Linked DNA regions of Homo sapiens. The protein of the gene in region 1 purifies or fractionates together with the protein of each later gene. This does not show direct contact. Each region holds a gene or a part of one and is shown in the gene's direction. Other genes may lie near its edges. The genes, in order: SUGT1, NLRP2, RNF41, SKP2, CNOT6, CLIC4 and NLRP3.

Region 1 (3,500 bases):
GGAGAAGAGTAGAAAACCAGGCTTCATTGTATATATAACCCTGTAAGAAACAGAACTTTGTGTTGAGGTCAATTTTAAGTATGTGCAATAACTAGGTAAGAATTTTTCTAGTGGACAAATTCACAGCACACTCAGAACTACAACCTAAGATTATATTTTATAGCAATAGCTTCATTAATGAGTGGAGGGAAATTTCTTTTTATTGGAAGTAATGGTCTGATTTAATGACTGAAACAAGCTAACATGTGTCTCAGCTTTTTCTGATTTTGACTGCTTTCTTCTGTAACAGAAAACACATTTCCTTGTGGCACCTTTTAGAAAACACTGAGTTATTCAACAGATCATTTGTGTGTGTGTTTGTGTGTGTGTGTATAGTTATTTCTTAAGAAATAATTTTGGATGTTTAGAAATTTCAAAAATAAGAGATTCTCATATAGCTTTCACCCAGTTTCCCCCATTGATAGTGTCTTAACTAGTCCAATGATTACCTCTTAAGTAGTCTGTGGTATAATTTTCAAAATCAGGGTATTAACACCAACAGATACTTTTTAAGGACTGAAGTATATCTAGTTGGTATTTAAGGTATTTAAGCATCTGCTTCACACTTTATTTGAAAGATGTATGTGTTTCTTTTAGGACTGACTCCAATAGATTTTGAGGCTGAGGTTTATATGTAGCTGAAAGCTTTAAAAAATATATAATCACTTTAAATGTAGTATCTTACTTAATTCTAACAGCCCTGCATAACAGGCAGCCCCTTAGTATTCCTCCCATTTTGCAGGCTCAGAAAAGTTAAGCTCAAGATTATCCCTCAGTTCTCATTGTCTAGGACTAAAATCTAGGTCTTCTCAGTTGGGTCCAGTTATTCTGTTAACCCGTTGTCTACTTGTTGCATACTGCTTGTTGTTGCATTTTCTAACAATGGAAACAGTCTTTGCCGACATGAGTATCTAGTAGTTATTTGATATTATAGTGAATGAGCAGGGAGGTTAGATTACTCATCTCTCAGTAGTTCATCTGCCATCTCCAGGTGTTAAAAGTTTTTCTGAGATTAAAGATCAAGGCTTTTTAGTGTTACAGTTACCATGTTTTTTCTAAACTCAACACCTTAGATATTCAAGATGATACTCTTCCTGTCCTGTTTTTGTAAGAAATTAATATACTTGTCAGATTCCTGTGTATTGCAAGCTGGAGACTGTAGATAAGGGCAAGTCACTTAACCTATCTGACCCAGCTTGCTTATCTACAAAATAGAGATTAAAACCTCTGTTCTCATCCTTCCTGGGAGTCAGCATTAGGATTAATTAAATCCATATTTCCCAGGCTCTTAACTTACCATGGCACGCATTTTTTGTTTTACCTGGCTACTAGTGAAAATGTACAAAGATAGAAGGATATCTAGTAGAAGGAAGGTGGATAGGATTTTCAAAACAATATATTTGGCCCTGAAAAAAAACTATGTGTTGGTGTTGTGTGTGTTGTTTTGTTTTGAGGAGGAATGGGCAGGGAGAAAGTCGGTTTACAAGTGAAGAGAAAGCGTAGAAAAACAGTGGATGTTAGTTTCTCAGCTATTTTGACAAAAGGGATGTAGAGAGCAGTATTGGGAGGAACATTTAGATTAGTACTAATGTGTCCTAATACATACTGATGGGGAAATTTTGAATTGGGTTTTTTGAAAACTGTAGCTCTTTTGTCCAACACAGTAGCTGCTAGCCACATGTTACCTGTTGAGCACTTGAAATATGACTAGTCTGCATTGAGATGATGTGCTATGTGAAATATATGCTACAGTTTGAAGAGTTAGTATGAAAAAAAGAATATAAAATATCTTCATTTTTTTTGTTGGTTTTTTTTTTTTTTTAAGAGAGAGTCTTGCTGTGTCACCCAGGCTGGAATGCAGTGGCACTGTCATGGCTCAGTGTAGCCTCAACCTCCTGGACTCAAGCAGTCCTCTACCCCAACCTTCCGAGTAGCTGGTACTGCAGGCATGTGCCACCACGCCCAGCTAATTATTATTATTTTTTTTTCATAGAGATGGGCTCTCACTATGTTGCCCAGGCTGGTCTCACACTTCTGGCCTCAAGCAATCCTCCTACTTGGCCTCCCAAAGTGCTGGGATTATAGGTGTGAGCCCCCATGCCCGGCCTCTGTTGGTTTCAAGTCAATATGATACTATATTTGATATATCAGGTTAAATAAAATGTATTATTAAACTGCATTTCACCTGATTCTTTTTAGTAATGTAGTTACTAGGAAGTTTTAAATTATATATGTGACTCACATTTGAGGCTGTCATTATATTTTCATTGGATAGTCAACAGAGCTGCTCCTATAGCTACTAGGTTGTCTAGTTATTTTCTAATTATTTGTGTGCCAAGATCTTGATGCCTTTGGTCTTTGGAGCAATCTTGGCAGTACCCCGAGCCCCTGGGCCAGTAGCCTCTCTCGCTGCAAGCAGCTCTGTTTACTCCAGTGTGCCCTACAAATACTATTATTTGCTAGGTGTATGGGATGTGGGCATTGAACTTTAGATCATCAAGTGTAGTACTTTAAACATTTAGAAATTACTTACTGTTATTGCCTATTAAAATAATCTTACTTTTTTGATGGGAGAGTATGGAGTGGCATGGATGATTATTTATATTTTCAGGCTATTTATACTCTGAAAGATACTAAGTACTTTAGAAAAAGTCACATTTTTAACATTTATTAAAATCTTAGTTACAAAAGATTTCTTAGGCATCCTTTAAAAAATTTCATTTTTAGAATTGTTCGTACTGTCTCTGCAACTTTTCTGAAAACATAAAAGTTCTGTATACTTTTCATCTAGTTTCTGTTATCAACATGAAGAATCTGCTTTTAATCTAATTTTGTATAGCATATCAAAAGTTTACACTTTATTGAGTTATTTTGCTCAAAAGAAATCCCCAGATTTTACATTATGGTAACTGACTCAGTTTTTAGAAATGTGAATTTTGTTATTGACCTATATACCAGAAAGACACTTATTGCATACCTGAAATTCAGTAACCTAAACTGTTTGCTAAGATGTTCCATATACATGGTCACAAAGTTTACATATTCTCGACATAATTGAAACATGTTGATTAATTACTTCTGCCTTTTTTTACTTCATAGATGTAAAGAACCTATATCCATCATCATCTCCTTATACAAGAAATTGGGATAAATTGGTTGGTGAGATCAAAGAAGAAGAAAAGAATGAAAAGTTGGAGGGAGATGCAGCTTTAAACAGATTATTTCAGCAGATCTATTCAGATGGTTCTGATGAAGTGAAACGTGCCATGAACAAATCCTTTGTAAGAATATAAACTTAAAGAAATATATATGGGAGCAAATTTTACATATTTTAAACGAGAAAATTGGTAATGTGAGACCAAATTGCGTGTACTATAGCTGGGAGAACTTTTTGAATAAGGTCTGTCTGAACGTTTCTTTTTGCTCTAAGAGTAATTTTTGAGGAAGTTGAAAACTTATGG
Region 2 (3,500 bases), on another chromosome or scaffold:
TTGGTTTTTTCTTTTTCTTTTTTCTTTTTGAGATGGAGTCTCGCTCTGTCACCCAGGCTGGAGTGCGTTGGTATGATCTCAGGTCACTGCAGCCTCCACCTCCCAGGTTCAAGTGATTCTCCTGCCTCAGCCTCCTGAGTAGCTGGGATTACAGGTGCACACCACCACACCTGGTTAATTTTTGTATTATTAGTAGAGATGGAGTTTTACCACATTGGCCAGGCTGGTCTCGAACTCATGACCTCAGGTGATCTACCCCCCCACCCCCACCCCACCCCGCCGTCGGCCTCCCAAAGTGAGGCATGAGCCACCGTGCCCAGCCCAGAATCTTTATCTTCTATCAGAGATCATTCACTCATGGTTCATGCTTCTCCTGTATGATGATTCAGAATACCAGCTATTGACATTTTTCAAGCAAGAACCCTTCAGGAACATCAAGTTGCCCCTTTTCTGTTAGTCCTCTGGTTTGAGAGCTCTCCCCTTGGGAAGCTGTCCAGTGGCTGCCCAGGCGATGAGAACCTACATGCATCATGGGGTTCCATGAAGCCTCACTTGGCCACACTGGTGTAGTAGGTGGTCATTGGCCTCAAATTATTGCCCTGGGCCAGGCGCAGTGGCTCACGCCTGGGAGGCCGAGGTGGGTGGATCACTTGAGGTCAGGAGTTCAAGACCGGCCTGGTCAACATGGTGAAACTCTGTCTCTACTAATAATACAAAAATTAGCTGGGCATGTTGGCGCACGCCTGTAGTCCCAGCTACTCAGGAGGCTGAGGCAGGAGCATCATTTGAACCTGAGAGGCGGAGGTTGCAGTGAGCTGAGATCACACCACCGCACTCCAGTCTGGGCAACAGTGTGAGACTGTCTCAAAAAAAAAAAAAAAAATCTTGGCTGGGTGCGGTAGCTCATGCCTGTAATCCCAGCACTTTGGGAGGCCAAGGCAGGTGGATCACAAGGTCAGGAGTTCAAGACCAGCCTGGCCAACATGGTGAAACCCCACGTCTACTAAAAATACAAAAACATTAGCTGGGCATGGTGGCGCGTGCCTGTAATCCCAGCTACTCATGGAGGCTGATGCAAGAGAATTGCTTGAACCTAGGAGGCAGAGGTAGCAGTGAGCCAAGATCACGCCATTGCACTCCAGCCTGGGCAACAGAGCAAAACTCCATCTCGAGGACAGAAAAAAAATTGATTGCTCTGGCTCTACTGATACAATCTTAGGCTGCTTAATGGGATCTTAGTTGAATAGGATGCTGTACATCTTACAGGTATTGGAAGGTTGAATGAAACCAAGCCCATGCATTCAATAGTGGCTGCTATCATTACTAACCGTTGCAATTACCCTCTTTTCTTTTTGCCTGAGAATAATGGGATGCAGGGTGAGGGGGAATATTGGGTGAATTAAAGATTTGGGTCACTAATTTCTTTCTTTTTTTCTCAAGATATAGTCTTGCTCTGTCTCCTAGGCTGGAGTGCAGTGCCACAATCTTGGTTCACTGCAACCTCTGCCTCCCGGGTTCAAGTGATTCTTCTCCGTCAACCTCCCAAGTAGCTGGGATTACAGGCACCCACCTGTATTTTTGTATTTCTAGTATTTTGTATTTCTAGTAGAGACAGGGTTACGCCATGCTGGTGGCCAGGGTGGTCTCAAACTCCTGACCTCGGGCAATCCACCACACCCAGCTAATTTTTGGTATATTTAGTAGAGCCGGGGTTTCACCGTGTTGGCTGGGCTGGTCTCGAACTCCTGACCTCAAGTGACATCCATCTTCCAAAATGCTGGGATTACAGCCATGTGCCACCACGCCCAGCTAATTCTTGTATTTTTAGGAGAAATGGGGTTTCATCATGTTGTTCCGGCTGGTCTTAAACTCCTGGCCTCATGATCCACCTGCCTTGGCCTGCCAAAGTCCTGGGATTACAGGCATGAGCCACTGTGCCCAGCCACTCATTTCTTATGAATTTATTCTAACACATTTTCCGGATGAACAGGGCACCTTGAAACATAGGTTAGTGGGCTGGGTATGGTGGCTCCTGCCTGTAATCCCAGTACTTTGGGAGGCCTAGGCTGGTGTATCGCTTGAAGTCAGGAGTTTTTTGTTTTGAGACGGAGTCTTGCTCTGTCGCCCAGGCTAGAGTGCAGTGGAGTGATCTCGGCTTACTGCAACCTCCGCCTCCTGGGTTCAAGTGATTCTCTTGCCTCAGCCTCCTGAGTAGCTGGGACTACAGGCACGTGTCGCCACGCCCATCTAACTTTTGTATGTTTAGTAGAGCCGGGGTTTCACCATGTTGGCCAGGATGGTCTCAAACTCCTGACCTCCTGATCTGCCCACCTCGGCCTCCCAAAGTGCTGGGATTACAGGCATGAGCCATTGCCCCGGCCAAAGTTAGGAGTTTGAGACCAGCCTGGCCAACATGGTAAAACCCCATCTCTACTAAAAAATACAAAAATTAGCCAGGCAAGATGGCATTTGCCTGTAATCCCAGCTACTCAGGAGGCTGAGGCGGGAGAATCTCTTGAATCTGGGAGGCAGAGGTTGCTGTGAGCTGAGATCGCGCCACTACACTCCAGCCAGGGCGACAGAGCATAAATAACTCCCTTTCAAAAAACCAAACAATGAAACATAGGTTAGCGGAGTCTGCATCCAACATTAGAGTCAGATTGACTAAGTTCTGTATTTCCAGCTGATTCCTGGGCGATGTTGGTGCCACTGGTCTGACCACCCTTTGACAACTGCTGCTCCAGATAATTCAAGTCGGGGTATAACACAACCAGTGAGATGTAAACCAAAGACGATTCCACGGTTAGATTCTCAAGAATGACTTGTTCTGCCGGGCGCGGTGGCTCACGCCTGTCATCCCAGCACTCTGGGAGGCCGAGGTGGGCAGATCACCTGAGATTGGGAGTTTGAGACCAGCCTGACCAACATGGAGAGACCCCCACCTCTACTGAAAATACAAAATTAGCTGGGCATGTTGGTGCATGGTGCATGCCTGCAGTCCCAGCTACTCGGGAGGCTGAGGCAGGAGAATCACTTGAACCCAGGAGGCGGAGGTTGCTGTGAGCCGAGATTGCGCCACCTGGGCAACAAGAGTGAGACTCAGTCTCAAAAAAAAAAAAAAAATGACGTGGTCCTATTTCTCCCACAGGTTGGTGTCTTGTTCCGCTACCACTCAGCAGTGGGCTGATCTCTCCTTGGCCCTTGAAGTCAACCAGTCCCTGACGTGCGTAAACCTCTCCGACAATGAGCTTCTGGATGAGGGTGCTAAGTTGCTGTACACAACTTTGAGACACCCCAAGTGCTTTCTGCAGAGGTTGTCGTAAGTCTCTCCTCTCTTACAGAGCAGCTGTGCTTTCGATCTGGGGCCACAGACGAGCAATGGTCATGCCTGACTTGGCTGTATGGAACCTCTCGCTGATGTGAACACCTGTTCCCATGTTTAGATCCAGGCCGATGGCCTGTGAATTTTGTTCTTCTCTCATTCCTATTCCTTCATAGGA
Region 3 (3,244 bases), on another chromosome or scaffold:
ATATGGAGGTGGGAGTGTGGTTGGAGATAGAAAGGCTCCTCCCCACCATGTAATGGCTTCCTCTCAGAATTTTATTCCAGGCTAGCTTGCTGCAGGTCTGGGTAGTTGGATCATGGCTCCACTGGGATTGGGGTGGAAAGCTTGAGGGGAGTAGGGTTCCAGCTCTGGGACATTGTGCTCAGGAATTTGAAAACGCTGCTATACTTACTCTGGTTACTACATTTCTTCCACTCCCCTTTCCCCTACCTGCCTTAACCAAGGCTCATACTGTCCTGTCCTTACCCTCAGATGGAGCCAGGAAGCTCAGTGAAAGGCTTCCCTACCCTTTGCACTAGTGTCTCTGCAGGTTGCTGGTTGTGTTGTATGTGCTGTTCCATGGTGTTGACTGCACTAATAATAAACCTTTTACTCAACTCTCTAAATTCTTCAGCATTACTCCCTTTCTTGAGAAGGTTTCCCCTCTGCTTTTGCCTTTCTCTCACCTTAATTCCCTTTCTTCCTTACTTTGTTACCTACCCTTATCTTAGTGCTAACTTCTCTTTCAGGAGGATGTCTGGGAGTAGTGTGCACTTCACAGCTGCTTTCCCATGTACCCTCCTGCATTCTTCCCTCCTATCTCCTGTTCTGTAGCAGCCAAAGCTCTCTAGTGATCTGAACTGTGTGCTTCCCAGGGTCTGCCTTTATCCTAAATTCCATGTCTTCCCTGAGTGGTCCTGAGTTTTTGGGATAATTTCTACAGAAGATATGTATATATCTTTTTCCTTTGTCCCACAAGCAACTTTGCTTTAGAATCTAGAATTCCTTTGCAGGCAGAGAAGTCTCTACCTCCCAGTGTTTCCTAGCTAAGAACGTAAATGTGAGGAGGGAAATGTACTTGCAGAGGTTTCATAATTATTTACTTATAAAAATAGTCTTCATAGCCGGGCGCGGTGGCTCACGCCTGTAATCCCAGCACTTTGGGAGGCCGAGGTGGGTGGATCACAAGGTCAGGAGTTCGAGACCATCCTGGCTAACACAGTGAAACCCCGTCTCTACTAAAAATACAAAAAATTAGCCGGGCGTGGTGGCAGGCACCTGTAGTCCCAGCTACTTAGGAGGCTGAGGCAGGAGAATGGCGTGAACCCGGGAGGCAGAGCTTGCAGTGAGCAGAGATTGGGCCACTGCATTCCAGCCTGGGCGACAGAGCAAGGCTCCGTCTAAAAAAAAAAAAAAAAAAAAAAGTCTTCATAGGCCGGGCACGGTGGCTCACGTCTGTAATCCCAGCACTTTGGGAGGCCAAGGTGGGTGGATCACAACGTCAGGAGATCGAGACCATCCTGGCTAACATGGTGAAACCCTGTCTCTACTAAAAATATAAATAAATTAGCCGGACAGGCGCCTGTCCTCCCAGCTACTCAGGAGGCTGAGGCAGGAGAATGGTGTGAACCTGGGAGGCGGAGCTTGCAGTGAGCTGAGATCACGCCACTGCACTCCAGCCTGGGCAACAGAGCAAGACTCCGTCTCAAAAAAAAAAAAAAAAAAACCAGTCTTCATAAGTATTTGCTGCTACCTTTCCCTGTCATAAGAAAAAGGATAGCCAGACATGGTGGGACGCCACTATGATCCCAGCTCCTTGGAAGGCTAAGGCACAAGAATCGCTTGAACCTGGGAGGTGGAGGTTGCAGTGAGCTGAGATCATGCCACTGCACTCCAGCCTGGTGACAGAGCAAGAGCCTGTCTCAAAAAAAAAAAAGAAAAGAAAAGAAAAAGGGATATCTTTTCCTCCTCCCAGAAGTTTGTTTTAAATTTGAGCATTTATCATGCACCTGATGTAAACCTAATAGTACTCTTGATACTCTAGTGGCTTGAAAAAAAAAAAAAAGGCATTTCTGTGCTGAGTCTGCGCTTCTATGCACACAAGGTATGTTTATAAAATACTGATAAGCATGTCACAGTATAGAGCATAAGAGGCAATGTATGTATCCTAGTGACATTAGCAGTGCTTTTCCCCCCTTAAACTCCTTTAAAATTACTTTTAGAACTTGCTGCTCATTCTTGTGAATGTTATGAATGGTGTCATATTGTCCTTTTACAGAAGATACGATTTTTAGAAACAAATATTCATTGAATGTCTGCCCTGTGAGATACTCACTAGAGTGAACATGAGGAGGCTTATGTAGCAAAATGGCACCTACCTGCAAAGAACTTAGTCCCTAATGGAGATGAATATATAATAAGGGATCATAAATGTGCTAAGTGGATTTACTAGTAATATGTGAGCCAAGGACGATAAAGCTCCTGATTCTGATGGGTATCAGGAAAGGCTTTTCAGGAAGTGTTACTTGTTATAGGTCAGAGGTCAGCAAACTACAGGTTACAACCCCACTGCCTGCTTTTGTAAAAAACTTTATTGGAATACAGTTATGCCCACTTGTTTATATATTGTCTGTGGCTGCTTTCACATTACAACAGCAGGGTTAAGTAGCTGGAACAAAGCCTAAAATACTTGGTCTTTTACAGAAAAAAATTTGCCAACCTGTTCTAAACTTTTAAGGTCAGGAGAACTGGGGGAAGGAGGGAGTAGAAAGAACACTGTCACCCAGACTGGAGTGCAGTGGCACCATCATATAGCTCACTGTAGCCTCAAACTCCTGGGCTCTAGTGGTCTTCCCACTTCAGCTTCTGGAGTAGCTGGGGCTACTGCACCTGGAATTGTCTTAATCTGTTTTAATACTAGTAAAATTTTTTTTGTTTCATCTCTTTCAGTGACTTTGATACACTGTCTTAATTTTTTTTTTTTTTTTTTTTTTTTTTTTAGATAGGGTCTGGCTCTGTAGCTGAGGCTGGAGTGCATGACGTAATTTTGGCTCACTGCAACCTCCACCTCCCAGGCTCAAGTGATCCTCCTACCTCAGCCTCTTAGGTAGCTGGGACCACAGGCATGCGCCACCACACCGGGCTAATTTTTTGTATTTTTTGTAGAGATGGGGTTTCACCATGTTGCTGAGGCTGGTCTCAAACTCCTGAGCTCAAGGAATCCACCTGCCTTGGCCTCCCAAAGTGCTGGGATTACAAGTGTGAGCCACTGCACCTGGCTTCATTGTCTTAATTTTTTACTTCAGTATATACATTGGAAAAATAAAAATATTTTTGACATTACCTAAATAACAAGTGTTTACAATTAACAATGTATAATGAATAATCTACTACAAACCCATGTTTACATTACCCTAATTGTCCCAAGAAAAGTCTTTTTTTTTTTTTT
Region 4 (3,500 bases), on another chromosome or scaffold:
TCTACAGTCCACCTTTTTAATGATAGATTTGTCACACAAATCACACTGACAATTTTTTTATGATGAAGTTATTTCATAACTCTGGCCAGTGGTCCACTTATTTCAAGCACTATTAAAAAAGAAAATTCTAGTACACCTAAGCATTTAAAATGTTCCTTCATGTGCTTATATTTCACATTTTCTTTTTTTAAATTGAATTAAACTATGGATATTAAAACCCTCTTACTGTGCTATTCAGTACGTTTTTAGAACATCCCTTTTGTTTTAGAAACACCATCTATAATCCGTTGTATTTTTCCCTTATTTCACATTAGTTCATACACACACATATGTACACATACATATACACGTGTATGTTTTAAGCTTCAAATATATTATAAGGCACAGCTGAACCATGACTGTTGCTATTGAATATCTATGACAGCCTTATTTCATAATAAAATAATGCTAACTTTCGTTCCTTTAGTAATTTTCCATGTTGCTACAGTAATCATAATTGCTTGACAAAAGTGTCAAATAGATTTAAAACTTCTTAGAGGATCCTATTTGCCTAGTAATATAATAATTAATTGATTTGAGCAATCATTTTTTAAATTTGTCAACTTGAATGCTGGAATATGATTCTCTGGTTCTAGATCACGGCAGTGCTAATGTTCACATTGAACCATCTAAATTGGAAGTATATAGAAAGAGAAAGATGGAAGCTTATCCCTGGTGAAATCAAGAAAAATTCTCTAGTGCCTTAAAAATATCATAGCTAATTGTATAGCCAACTTAAAAACAAAAGTTCTTTTAGAATATGCTTCAAGGAGATTTAGCAGCAGTGTCCTACCTGTTAGTAATGTTGTTGAGGGCTTCCAGCATTTAGTGTGACCGACTGGCCAAATTAAGTATCTCCTCTTTTATAGGTCTGATGAGTCTCTATGGCAGACCTTAGACCTCACAGGTAAAAATCTGCACCCGGATGTGACTGGTCGGTTGCTGTCTCAAGGGGTGATTGCCTTCCGCTGCCCACGATCATTTATGGACCAACCATTGGCTGAACATTTCAGGTAAAGATGAAAAATCCCTGGAAAAGACTATTTCTAAATTTCGAGGTAGAAACAGATCAAAGCTTTTTTTTTTTTTTTCTTTCTTCAGCCTTAAAGCCTATGGTAGGTTATCTGTGCAGTGTGGGATGTTAATTCCATACTTTGCTATGGGGCCTTTGTGCTAAAACCTAGCATAGATTTCAATGACACTGTTCCCATTTCACTCAAGTTTACTGTTAGTCTCTTCCCAGGGTGAAAGAGGCACATTTGTCTTCTCAAGTCCTCAGCTGATAGGGGGACTGTGAGTCCCACAAGGCAGGCACAAGTAAAGCACTCACTGGCAGATGCAAGGGTGCCCAGTTACTTCCCCAATGCCCATTTCTGATAAATAAAAAAAAGTGAGGAGTCTTTTCATGTTTGTAGCTTGGGGTTTATGATTTTTGTCTTGGAGAAATTTGGAACCTGAAAAAAATGCCCTCTTTTTGTTTGTTTTGTAGAATATTTTGAAAAAGAATTTTCTGTTCTGATAATTTTGCAATACTGAGGTTACTGCTATCACATAGTAGAATAACTAGGTACTGAACAGAAAAACAAGCTGAAGACAACAAAGCTAAAGATAAAACATGTCTCCTGACTCCAGTACTTTTTCCCTTCTTTCCGTAGTCAGGACCGCCTCTCCCACTGCTTTTTATCCTGTTCCTCCTGTGGCTGTTCCTTCTCAGTCTCCTTCACATATGTGATTTCCTCTGTTCACTCCAGGGTCGGTTCCTGGCTGCCACCTTTTTCAAATCCAAATGCTGTCCCTGGACAAGCTGTGTCCTCTACACCCACATTTATGCCCAGGACTCTCAGTTCCTCATCTATAGCTTGGCCCTCCCTTTCAAATTCCCAAATTTCTAATTACCTAAAAACGTCTGTACCTGAATTTCTTACAAGGACTTCAATATTAGCATAACTCAAATTTGGCCTCCCTTTTTTTTTATTGTTTTTGTTTTTTGAGACGGAGTCTTGCTGTGTCACCCAGGCTGGAGTGCAGTGGCGTGATCTCGGCTCATTGCAACCTCTGCCTGCCAGGTTCAAGCAATTCTGCCTCAGCCTCTCGAGCACCTGGGGACTACAGGTGTGCGCCACCACGCCCAACTAATTTTTTGTATTTTTAGTAGAGACTGGGTTTCACCATGCTGGCCAGGCTGGTCTTGATATCCTGACATCGTGATCCACTGGACTCAGCCTTTCAAAGTGTTGTGATTACAGGCGTGAGCCACTGCGCCCAGCCTGGTCTCCCTTTAAAACTTTCTCTTCCGCTACCTTCCCTGTTCTATTGCTGCTCACCCACTCACCCCTGCCAGAAACCAGGAGCCGTTATGGTCTTAATCTCCTTGTCACCCACATCCAGCTCATTGTTGTGATGCCCACTCGTTATTTTCTAAGTGGGACTATATTGGCAGCAACATCTGTACTTGGCAAAAATCCTCTTGCATTTTAAAATGAATGAAGATGGGAATACACTAGTAGCAATATGTTTTATGACCCTATAGTTAATGCTTGAAGTATGTATTTAGAGTCTTGTTTGTGATTGGCTGCTCATTTGGGGAGAAGAGGGGTCTGGTTTGAAATTGGATGTACCCGTGAGAGCCACCTATGGAGCTCCTTTTTTCTCTCCGTGTTTAGCCCTTTTCGTGTACAGCACATGGACCTATCGAACTCAGTTATAGAAGTGTCCACCCTCCACGGCATACTGTCTCAGTGTTCCAAGTTGCAGAATCTAAGCCTGGAAGGCCTGCGGCTTTCGGATCCCATTGTCAAGTGAGTGGCAGGCAGAGTGTCACAAAGGCAGTTGATTTTATGTGTATGAATTTTTTTCCCTGTATATAACTGGGGTGCCCTTCTAGCCATATCCAGGTGGATACAGAAAATATCTAGTGCAGTGCTCTAGCTTCTGCAAAACTTTTCAGGACTCATTGAAGCAACAAAAGCTTGAATGCTAACTATATGCCAGGCCCTGTGCTAGGTTCTAGAGATACAAGTACAAGGATGAACAATGCATGTGTATTATTTGGGAAGAAAATGAATGCTCTAAAACTTTTCCCACCTTGTTAGTGAATGCTGGTTAAGCTATAGTTTACCTTCTTGCAAGAGGAAACATTGAGCAAGACATGTCTATTTTCTCTTGCAAGAAGGTAAACTATTTATGAGCAAGACAGATAATTACCATGCAGTGTGTTTATTAAATGTTTCAGTGAATATGTGGCAACACACGAGGAGCCGCCTTGTTAGAGGAAGTGACTCTTGAGTATTGAAGATATCTAGGTAGGAGATCTCTAGGTAATAAGACAAAGCAACCAGTCTAGGTAAAACTTCCTGTGTGGTTCTAAACTCTTACGTAGTTGGAAGTTGCTGGAGCACAGGACTAAGGGAGGAGAGTGACAAGGTGAGGAGAGTCAGGGACCAGATTGTAATGGGCCCCTA
Region 5 (3,500 bases), on another chromosome or scaffold:
ATACTAAGATGCTGATCGTGGTGTTATCTTTAATTCTTTGTAAAAAGTGGAAACAACCTGCATTTTACAAAATAAGTAACCAGTAAATATTATCCACCAGCCCAATTGCATTGTGCAGCCATTAAAGAACGATAATTGGGAAGACACATGTTCATAAAGCAAATTATAAACTATTCAATACTCTGTGATGACAACTGTGTAAAAATAGATTTGGGCAAGTCCTGGCAAATGTAAAAGGAAACATTTTGGAACGTGGGAATATGTATAGTTTAAAACTTCTTACTATTGCATGATCTTTTAAAATTACTTTTTGTATATATTTGACAATAAAAAAATTTGTCTTCATTGTAGGTGTTGTAGAATATTTGAGCACAGGTGGAGTAGAAACAAATCACAAAGACTTTAAGGAGTTGAGGTATAATGAAAGTCTCACAAACTTCAGCTGTCATGGGAAGAATGGAACCACCAATGGAAGGATCACTCATGGTTTCAAGTTACAGAGTGCCTATGAGAGTGGCCTGATGCCTTACACGAATTACACATTTGATTTCAAGGTGTGTCTTGAGACTGATAAGCTTTTCAAACCTGTCTTTTACTGGCAGGTGTTCTGATACATCATTATGTCTTTAAAACTGTGGCTGTGTGTTCAGGCTGGAATGAAGCAGTCTTGAATTCATTGACAGCAATGTTCTTTGTTTTTTGTTTGAGACAAGGTCTCACTCTGTTACCCAGGCTGGAGTGCAGTGGCACAGTGATGGCTCACTGCAGCTTCAACCATGCCGGCTCAAACGATCCTCTCACCTCGGCCTCCCTAGTAGCTGGGACTACAGGCGCCTACTACCACGCCTGGCTAATTCTTGTATTTTTTGTAGAGATGGGGTCTCGCTATGCCCAGGCTGATCTTGAACTCCTGGCCTCAAATGATTCTTCCACCTCAGCCTCCCAGTGTGCTGGGATTACAGGCGTGAACCACTGTGCTCAGCCAGTAATATTCTTTTATTACTCTTTTTTAGAAGTCCATGTGATCAGTGTCACATCCTTACTTTGTAGATATTTATTCTAATAATTTTCAGGATAAGAAGTCACATGAAATAATCTGTAAAATTCCTAAGTTGACTTTTTCACCTTTTGGGGACAATTATGTTTCTTATATTCTCATTACTAATAGCTAGATATGCAGCACCATAATTATCTAGTTTGAGTGGCATTTGTGGTAAGATGTTCCTTCTCTTACATTTTAATTTAACTGAAAGTAAACTCTTGCATGCCAAAATGTGATTTATATTAGCTATTTTTAAGTGTTTCTAAGATACATCTTTTTTCTCCCCCTAGAGACAGTCTTGCTCTGTTGCCCAGGCTGGAGTGCAGTGGCGTGATCTCGGCTCACTGCAACCTCCACCTCCCAGGTTCAAGTGATTCTCATACCTCAGCCTCCCAAGTAGCTGGGATTACAGGCATGAGCCACCTCACCTGGCTAATTTTTGTATCTTTGGTAGAGACGGAGTTTCACCATGTTGGCCAGGCTGGTCTTGAATACCTGGCCTCAAGTGATCCACCCACCTTGGCCTCCCAAAGTGCTGGGATTACAGGCATGAGCCACCGCACCTGGTCAGACTTACACCATTTTTAACGTTAGTGATTGTTTAGGGCTGTCACTTTCTTGTGTTCAACTGTCCTTTTTCTAAAAAGAGATATGGTCTCACTCATTTTGCCCAGGCTGAAGTACAGTGATGTGATGATAACACACTGCAGCCTCAAACTCTCGGGCTCAGGCAACCCTCCTGCCTCAGCCTCCCCGCTAACTTGGACTACAGGTGTCCGCCGCCATACCCAGATCTTTTTTTTTTGGTAATTTTTTGTAAAGACAAGGTTTTGCTATATTGCCCAGCCCAATCTTGAACCCCTGGCCTCAAGCAATCCTCCTGCCTTAGCCTCCCAAAGTGCTGGGATTATAGACGGGAGCTACCACATCTGGCTCAGCTGCCCTTTTAAACTACTTTTTGCATTTCTGCTTTCTTAAAAATTTCTTAACTCCCAGCTTTCTATTTCTAAGCTGCTGGAAAAGTAATCATTTAGATTAGACTGTCAGAGTGTAAATAAGAGTTTAGATAGTATCTCAGGAGCCTTTGCACCTTAGAGCATAGAAAGTAAACCCCTGTTTATCCTCAGGTGCCCCTTCCTTTCAGGTTCTTCAGGAGACATTGAAGAGAAAGCATGGGTAGCAGCCACAGAGTGGGAATGCTTAGCGTTTTCTTTCTCTTTCTGTTGCTGATGCAGTGGCAGGAAGAAGACACTTGAATGTGCTTCAGTACATTTGGCCAAGAGCATGTAGAGGGGAGGACCAGAACCATCAGATGGGAACAGTTTAGTAGATGCCATGGCGGGGTGCTGCTGAGAGAAAAGGGGGTCAGGTAGAGACAGTCCTGCCCTCATGGAGCTGAGGTGTGATGAGAGAGACAAGTCTCAACCACACAAATGAGTAGATAATTACACCTTGAGATGGCCATTAGCAAGGGAAGTGAATCTGTGGTGAGAGGTAGGGTAGTAAGTAGGTAGGAGCAGGATTCAGGAAGGTCTTTGGAAAGCAGTTGAACCTGACATTGAAAGATTAAGAAGGAATTGACCTCATAACAAGTAGAAGAAAGTGTTCCAGGCAGAATGGTGGAGGGGGGCAGTGTGTGTGTGTGTGTGTGTGTGTGTGTGTGTGTGTGTGTGTGTGTGTGTCCGTCCGTCCGTCCGTCCTGGGGCAGGAAAGAACTTGGTACCTATAGGTCCCCTCACATCCTCACCCCTTTCTCATTCCAAAGGCTAGTGTGGAAGCAGGGAAAGTGGCACAAATTAGGCTAGGAAAGAGAAGCAGAGGCTGCATCCTGAAAGGCCTTTTAGGTCTTGTTAAAGATCCAGATAAGAAGAATGCTTCATTCTGCTAGATTTGACATTTTGCACGGGGACCATTTGGTGTATGTAGTACAGACCTCATCCTACAAGCTAGTAAGTTTCACTTGTTCTGTTCTGTTCACCAAACATGACATAAAGGCATGTCTTGAAAGCACTGAGGATTTTAGTGTTGTCTTATACGGTGCTTATCTTTTTTTCTGTTGTTTTTCAGGGTATAATAGACTACATTTTCTATTCTAAACCTCAGCTGAACACCTTAGGCATCCTGGGCCCTCTGGACCACCACTGGCTGGTTGAGAATAACATCAGTGGCTGCCCGCACCCCCTCATCCCCTCTGACCACTTCTCACTTTTTGCACAACTGGAGCTCTTACTGCCTTTCCTGCCCCAAGTCAACGGCATCCACCTTCCTGGCAGGAGGTAGTCAAGCACCTTCAGAGGACAGCCTTGATTCACTTGTAAACTTGTGAAAATCTGAACATAGGGGAGTGAGGTATGGCCACTGAGGATTTTTGCTTGCTTAAGAATGATTTGGACTTTCAATCTGATTATTTGATAAGGATATAGTATGAAAGCCAGGTGCTAGCAACAGACAAATTCTG
Region 6 (3,500 bases), on another chromosome or scaffold:
CCACTGTGAACTGGGATGATCACTGTCAGCAAGTAGTCACCAAGCTGCTGGGATTGGGGTGGTGTTTGTAAAAAGTTAATCTGGTGCAGGGTGGCATAACACATAAGAGTCTGTTTCTTTTGAGATATTTGGCAGAGGTTCCTAATGTGCTTGGACTCTGGAGCCACACTGCTTGACTTGAATCTGGCTTCTAGTATGTCAGGCAAGTTTTTAAGCTCTCAGTGCTTCAGTTTCCTAACTTCTAATATCAGGATAATAATAATAGCAATTTTATATGGTTACTGAGGGGATTAAAACTGTTAATCTGTGCATATTAGTTAGGGTAGTTTAAGTTGCTGTAATAAGTTATCCCCCCACAAACAGTGGTTCAAATATGATGGAAGTTTATTTCTCACCCCTCAGTCCAGGAGAATGTCTTAGATGTTAGGGTGGCTTTCCTCCTCAGAGTCATTAAGGGACCCGGGCTCTTTCTAGCTTATTTGTCCACTAACTCCCAGAGCATTGTCCTCTTCTGAATTGTCAAAGTTGGTGGGTGACAAGTACTGTCTGTTGCCAGTGGGGGGTGGAAAATATGGAGGAAGCACATCTTAAGGGCCCCAGCTCAGAAGTTCTACCTGTTACTTCCGGTCACATTCTATTGGAGAGAACTTAATCACATAGCTTCATCTGCAAGAGAGGCTGGCAAGTGTGGTCTAACCGTATACCATCCTATGTAAAGCTTTAGGAAGAGTGCTTGACACATAGTAAACACCTGCTTTTGTCATCGATAATAGTTTATTATTATTATTTTTTTTTGAGACGGAGTCTCGCTCTGTCGCCAGACTGGAATGCAGTGGTGCAATCTTGGCTCACTGCAACCTCTGCTTCCCGGGTTCAAGCGATTCTTCTGCCTCAGCCTCTGGAGTAGCTGGGACTACAGGCGCGTGCCACCATGCTCAGCTAATTTTTGTATTTTTAGTAGAGATGGGGTTTCACCGTGTTGGTCAGGATGGTCTCGATCTCCTGACCCCATGATCTGCCCGCCTTGGCCTCCCGAAGTGCTGGGATTACAGGCGTGAGCCACCGCGCCCAGCCTAATAGTATATTATTTTTAAATGTGGGCTCTATTAGTAGGATCAGGGAGTTCTGTAAATCCTTGAAATTACAGTAAAAAATTCTAATGTGAGGCTTTTTTTCTGGAAATTCCTAAACCAAGGCTAAGAACCACTGTTCTAAAAGAAGTAAATAGTGGAATTCTTAGAGTCAAGAATACTTTATATAAGCAAGGTATAAAAGAAGGGCTTGGGCTAGATGATCACAAAGGTCTCTTCTAGTTATTATTAACTATGACTTAAAGAATGTACCGGCATGAACTAAGTGCTAATACTGAGTTAAGTACTATGGAAGATATAAGAAATTATTAAACAGTTAATTTCTTTAGGTTTACAAATTTTATTGGAAAGAAAACAATACAAGATGGTCCATGCTTAAAGAGTCAAGTGGGGCTCACATTAAGTAGGGCTAGGAGACATGGGGAAAGATGGAAGGAGGCTTAAACTTGACCTTGAAAAAGGAGGTGAATAGGTGGGTTCGGAATAGCCAAGAATGGGAATGTGAGTTTTGACATTATGTGGAAACTCCTTATGCAGGAAACAATTGGTAGATTGATACCTAAGAAGGAACCAGGAGTGATTCAGATCTATAGTGCCAGGGAGACAAGTTATTTAAAAGTTGAGGATGAGACTTTTAAAACCTAACTTGGGTTTTTGTTAATGTATACATTTTCCTAACTTTTTTCATTCTCCCCACACTTTCCTGTGTTTTTGGATTGCTGTCTGTTTAATAACTTTTCAGTGGCACTTGGGAAGGTGCAAATGGATTGTACAGATGGACTGTTTTGACAGTTTAAAGTGGGAATTCTTTATATTGTTTCAAGGACAGGCTTCAAACTTCCCCCCGTCTTTGTTTTTTCTAACAGAAAAAAATGAAATAAATTTTCTATAGGAAATGATGCTGAAAACTGTTCTGGTAATTAACAAAAGCTAACTCAATATTCAGACAATATTACCTTGAATCTAATTGATTTGCCATTCATTTGAGGTTTCCGGGGGGAAAATTCAGGAGACAGAAATGAATGTAAAGTATGAAGTTAATGAAAACCTATTATTTTAACTTTTTGCCTGAGCTGTTCCTGAAGACCTAATAATGCTACTTTTGGCAAAGGCCAAATTTGATGATTTTGGTTTAATGTAAAAACCTGTGAGAAAGGAGCCTAGAATGGGGAAGAGGCAGGAGGCTTTGAGCCTAGGAGACTGAGCACACGAAAAGCTTAACAGAGTATGAATAATGATAGGAAAGAGGCAATTGGGAGAAGAACCTGGCTGTCAGGAAATGTCACAGTTGGTTTGGGAAGATGCCTGCAGAGGTGCCTAGAAGCCAGTAAGTAAGGATGGTGAGCCATCCTTTTCCGCTTCCTGTTTCGTTAGAGCTGTGGAGCCTCCGTGTTCTGATGTCCCCTGAGTAGGGAATTGTGAGTCCATAAAAGGAAAATGTGTTAGGCAGGATGGGAAGTGTGATTAAGGCATGAGTTAAGATTTTGGTCAAGTAGAGGAGTAAGCTAGGATGGGTTTGCCTGTTTTAGACGCTTGCATAGAGAATGGAAAGGGACTTTCTGAAGGAAAATGACATTAGGTCATGGTTACCTATTGTCCAAGGATGATTTAAGACATGTAAATGTAATTTAGGGCATCAGCTAGTGAATTTTCTCATGGCTTTTAATTATATTGTCTATTTCGAGACTTGCCTCTTATCTCTCAGTGGTCAGTTCCAGATATTGGTATAAGAAATAAGAAATAACAATGATAGGCCCACTGCCATGGCTCACACCTGTAATCCCAGCACTTTGGGAGACCGAGGTGGGTGGATCGCCTGAGGTCAGGAGTTCAAGGCCAGCCTGGCCAACATGGTGAATCCCTGTCTCTACTAAAAATACAAAAATTAGCTGGGCGTGGTGGTGGGCGCCTGTAATCCCAGCTACTCGGGAGGCTGAGGCAGGAGAATTGCTTTAACCTGGGAGGCGGAGGTTGCAGTGAGCTGAGATTGTGTTACTACACTCCAGCCTGGACGACAGAGTAAGACTCCGTCTCAAAAAAAAAAAAAAAATTATAGGCTGGGCAAAATAGTGAGTCCTCATCTCTATAAAAACTAAATTTTTGTATTTTTAGTAGAGATGGGGTTTCACCATGTTGGTCAGGCTTGTCTTGAACTCCTGACCTCATGATCTGCCCGCCTCGGCCTCCCAAAGTACTGGGATTACAGGCGTGAGCTACCACTCCTGGCCCCATCTCTACTAAAAATACAAAAATTAGCTAGGCATGATGGTGCACGCCTGTAATCCCAGCTACTCAGGAGGCTGAGGCAGGAGAATCTCTTGAACCCGGGAGGCGGAGGTTGCAGTGAGCTAAGATCACACCACTGCACTCCAGCCTGGGCGACAGTGAGACTCTGTCTCAAAAAAAAAA
Region 7 (3,500 bases), on another chromosome or scaffold:
CCTGGCCGGAGGAAAGCTGTGTGAGGAGGAGGAGGAGTATGGGGTAACTGGCTCAGTTTGCCTTGGCTCTTTCTGTCGGACTCATACAGCAAAGCATCTGCTGAGACATCATTTGTGTCTCCTGTGACAGCCAGAGACAGCAGGTCTTGCTCTCCCCAGATCATATCTGAGATGCTGGCTCCTGCTCTCTGAGCTGAAGGCTGCAGCTGCTGAGAGAGGACGAGGCACTGAGTCAAAGCAGCTGCACAATGTTGGGGAACAGCTGGGTACTGAGGACTCTTCTCCCTGTCCTTCTACAGGTTGGTGAATTCTGGCCTTACGTCAGTCTGTTGTTCAGCTTTGTCCTCGGTACTCAGCACTAATCAGAATCTCACGCACCTTTACCTGCGAGGCAACACTCTCGGAGACAAGGGGATCAAACTACTCTGTGAGGGACTCTTGCACCCCGACTGCAAGCTTCAGGTGTTGGAGTAAGTCCTTTGGTTTATTACAGCAATGAGAACACATGGTGGCCAAGGGTGGAGGGACGTTTAGGCAGAGTGGCCACAAGATAATCTGTATCTTAGAAGTGAGGTGTCTTCTTAGTGTTTGCCTTGTTACAGGATCATGGGACTGGGAGGAGTCCTTCCAGATGATATAGATGTAGGAACTTGAGTCCTTACCATCACAGTTTTCTGTACCACAAAACAAGGAGGGCAGTATGACACTTACATTTTATGGAAATGTAGGGAAAGGCACAGAATTTGGTAAATCAATGAACAAACCACTGTTACTAATTTGATCTGTGCAATGCAGTGGATTTGAAAAAGAGAGAGAAGAATAATTACCAGCATACAAGGCTGCTTGAAGCTAGTTAGTCCTGTGCTCCTGTGCTTTTTTTTTTTCCACCTGAAACAAGACAGGCTAAGATGCTAAAATCTTGGGGAGCTAGGGGGATGGTTAAGGGGACATTTTCTTTAAATCACCCCCTTTTTGCAGATTAGACAACTGCAACCTCACGTCACACTGCTGCTGGGATCTTTCCACACTTCTGACCTCCAGCCAGAGCCTGCGAAAGCTGAGCCTGGGCAACAATGACCTGGGCGACCTGGGGGTCATGATGTTCTGTGAAGTGCTGAAACAGCAGAGCTGCCTCCTGCAGAACCTGGGGTGAGTGTGCTCTGCAGAGATGCCCGTGGTGGGACTCTGAGTTCTCAGGAAACGTTGACTGTTATCAAAATCCAGGATGGCTCTCGCTTCATTTGCAGCCACTCAAGATTAGGTTGGGCCTGGGTCAGTTGTGGTGGATATTTTAAAATAGAGAATATGGGGTTAAACTACACATTCCACTTCACTGAGATGGTTAGAATCACCAAGGCTAAGCTGGATTTCACCCACATTCCCCAAAGAAACACAAGCCCTCATGCGATCATGGCCAAGGAGGATTCTGTTCTACACAAGGAACCGAACTTCGTAGAACTCGTCTATGGGTCATCCAAATTGGAAGGGTCTTTACATAGTGGGGATCTTGTTGTTTTGTTTCTGAGGATTTATTTTTTTTTTCCTTGAGACAGAGTCTTGCTCTGTCGCCCAGGCTGGAGTGCAGTGGCATGATCTCGGCTCACTGCAAGCTCCGCCTCCCGGGTTCACGCCATTCTCCTGCCTCGGCCTCCCAAGTAGCTGGGACCACAGGCGCCTGCCACCACACCCGGCTAATTTTTTGTATTTTTAGTAGAGTTGGGGTTTCACTGTGTTAGCCAGGATGGTCTCCATCTCCTGACCTCGTGATCTGCCTGCCTCGGCCTCCCCAAGTGCTGGGATTACAGGTGTGAGCCTCCGTGCCTGGCGGTTTCTGAGGATTTCTAAATGGGAAAAGAGTGCTCCAGGAATAGCAAGATGGGAAATTACACGAAATTCGACAGTGTGTCAGGATATTGCCAGCCCACCTCTGTGATACTACTGAGGTAGTCGTCTCCTCTCTAGCAAGAGCTTCCTGGCGAGTCCCACGGTTCTGTCAGCCGTGATGATTGCACTTTTCCCTGAAGACGTTTTCACTGCTTGGCTTTAAGGCCAACATGCTCTCCTGGGTTTTCTCCTATTTCATCAGATCCTTCTACTCAGTCTCCTTTCTGGCCTCTTCTTCATCATCCTGACCCTTATGTGTTGAATCCTCAGAGCTTAGTCGCTGGGCTAATTTTTCTTCCCTACACTTTCTCCCTCATTTAAATTATCTGGTCTTCTGGCTTCATGATATGTGTGCTGTGGCCTCCAGATTATATGTCCATAAATTCTGTGTCTCCGTGCTTGGCTGATCTTTCTTCTTGAAGGTTTAATAAACCTCTCAAACGTCACATCTAGATCCACACCCTTGCTACTCTCTTCTACCCGAAACCTGATTCTTCCCCATTTCAGTCGATGGTCACTTCCTCCAAGTTGCTCGGGCCAAAACATTTCTGGTTCTGTCGTCACTGTCTCTTTTTCCTTATAATCATGTCCAATGTGTCAGCACATCCTGTGAGCTCTGCCTTCCCAGCTTGGCCACTCCCTGACCACTTCAGGCCAGCTTCACGGCTTCTTCCTTGGCTCAAGCCACCATCACCTGGTGTCTGGATTGTCATGGTGGCATTCTGACAGGTCACCCTGCATCTGTTATTCTGATTTTAGCAGACAAGGGATTCAGCTAAAACGTAACTCGCATCATATCACTCTTGTCAACATCGTCTTCTTATCACTTTCATAATCAGAGCAACAAACTCATGGTGGCTTCCATGCCCCACATAATCCAGCCTCTCCTGCTTCCGAAGATTCCGCTTCTCCCAACCCTTGCTTATTCTGCCCCAGTACAGTGATCTCCTTGCTGTTTTGCAAGAACACTGTCATCTCTGGATTTTTGCACTTGCTTTTCTTCTGGCCTAGAACTCTCTCCCCTTCAGTATCCACCTGCATTATTCCCTGTACCTTCCTAAATTCTCTGCTTAAAGGTCTTCTCTGCGAGGCTGTCTTTGACTATTCTACTGAAAATAGAAGCACTTTTTCTTCTCTTCTCATTCTCCTCTGCAGTGTAGCACATCTTATGTGCTATGTCATTTTCTTGTTTATTTATTATCTATCTCTGCTCCCAAAATATAAATTCCATTAGTCCAGGGACTTCTGTCCATATTAATGATCTCAAGGCTGAGAACTTGTTGGAATGCAGGTTTGAATAAATACAAGTTTGAATCAGCCTTGCATCCTTGTGCCAACATAATGGAGCACATTTGCTGCAGGACAAGCCAATATTCCCAGAGCTAAGAGAGATGGGGGAACAAACAAAGGATTGGTCAGGTCAAAGCTGGGGACACTGCTACATGTAGCATCACTGACCTAGCCCTGAGGGACATTCTGGACCCAGGCTGAGGGACAGGCTCAAAATAGATTGAAGAATCCATGAATGCAATCAACCCGTTTTCTCAGGCTGCGATAACAAGCTGCTTTAGACTGTGTGACTCAAACACAGATTTATTATCTCACAATACTGGAGG

What was found.
Region 2: the proteins of SUGT1 (region 1) and NLRP2 purify together in Homo sapiens (affinity purification with western blotting; 2 studies listed by BioGRID and IntAct, with this or other methods). This does not show direct contact.
Region 3: the proteins of SUGT1 (region 1) and RNF41 purify together in Homo sapiens (affinity purification with mass spectrometry; 3 studies listed by BioGRID and IntAct, with this or other methods). This does not show direct contact.
Region 4: the proteins of SUGT1 (region 1) and SKP2 purify together in Homo sapiens (affinity purification with mass spectrometry; 3 studies listed by BioGRID and IntAct, with this or other methods). This does not show direct contact.
Region 5: the proteins of SUGT1 (region 1) and CNOT6 purify together in Homo sapiens (affinity purification with mass spectrometry; one large-scale study listed by BioGRID and IntAct). This does not show direct contact.
Region 6: the proteins of SUGT1 (region 1) and CLIC4 fractionate together in Homo sapiens (co-fractionation; one large-scale study listed by BioGRID). This does not show direct contact.
Region 7: the proteins of SUGT1 (region 1) and NLRP3 purify together in Homo sapiens (affinity purification with western blotting; one study listed by BioGRID). This does not show direct contact.

The regions. Positions count from the first base shown.
Region 1 is NC_000013.11:52,676,836-52,680,335, forward strand, and holds part of SUGT1 (protein SGT1 homolog), read left to right. Parts: intron 1-3,138; coding exon 3,139-3,320; intron 3,321-3,500. UniProt on the Homo sapiens protein: May play a role in ubiquitination and subsequent proteasomal degradation of target proteins.
Region 2 is NC_000019.10:54,986,874-54,990,373, forward strand, and holds part of NLRP2 (NACHT, LRR and PYD domains-containing protein 2), read left to right. Parts: intron 1-3,148; coding exon 3,149-3,319; exon of another isoform or gene 3,320-3,500. UniProt on the Homo sapiens protein: Suppresses TNF- and CD40-induced NFKB1 activity at the level of the IKK complex, by inhibiting NFKBIA degradation induced by TNF. When associated with PYCARD, activates CASP1, leading to the secretion of mature pro-inflammatory cytokine IL1B.
Region 3 is NC_000012.12:56,201,679-56,204,922, reverse strand, and holds the end of RNF41 (E3 ubiquitin-protein ligase NRDP1), read left to right. Parts: 3' UTR 1-2,744; downstream 2,745-3,244. UniProt on the Homo sapiens protein: Acts as E3 ubiquitin-protein ligase and regulates the degradation of target proteins. Polyubiquitinates MYD88. Negatively regulates MYD88-dependent production of pro-inflammatory cytokines.
Region 4 is NC_000005.10:36,165,611-36,169,110, forward strand, and holds part of SKP2 (S-phase kinase-associated protein 2), read left to right. Parts: intron 1-908; coding exon 909-1,052; intron 1,053-2,702; coding exon 2,703-2,837; intron 2,838-3,500. UniProt on the Homo sapiens protein: Substrate recognition component of a SCF (SKP1-CUL1-F-box protein) E3 ubiquitin-protein ligase complex which mediates the ubiquitination and subsequent proteasomal degradation of target proteins involved in cell cycle progression, signal transduction and transcription.
Region 5 is NC_000005.10:180,570,879-180,574,378, forward strand, and holds part of CNOT6 (CCR4-NOT transcription complex subunit 6), read left to right. Parts: intron 1-351; coding exon 352-554; intron 555-3,109; coding exon 3,110-3,322; 3' UTR 3,323-3,500. UniProt on the Homo sapiens protein: Poly(A) nuclease with 3'-5' RNase activity.
Region 6 is NC_000001.11:24,751,947-24,755,446, forward strand, and holds part of CLIC4 (chloride intracellular channel protein 4), read left to right. Parts: intron 1-3,500. UniProt on the Homo sapiens protein: In the soluble state, catalyzes glutaredoxin-like thiol disulfide exchange reactions with reduced glutathione as electron donor. Can insert into membranes and form voltage-dependent multi-ion conductive channels.
Region 7 is NC_000001.11:247,443,673-247,447,172, forward strand, and holds part of NLRP3 (NACHT, LRR and PYD domains-containing protein 3), read left to right. Parts: intron 1-299; coding exon 300-470; intron 471-978; coding exon 979-1,149; intron 1,150-3,500. UniProt on the Homo sapiens protein: Sensor component of the NLRP3 inflammasome, which mediates inflammasome activation in response to defects in membrane integrity, leading to secretion of inflammatory cytokines IL1B and IL18 and pyroptosis.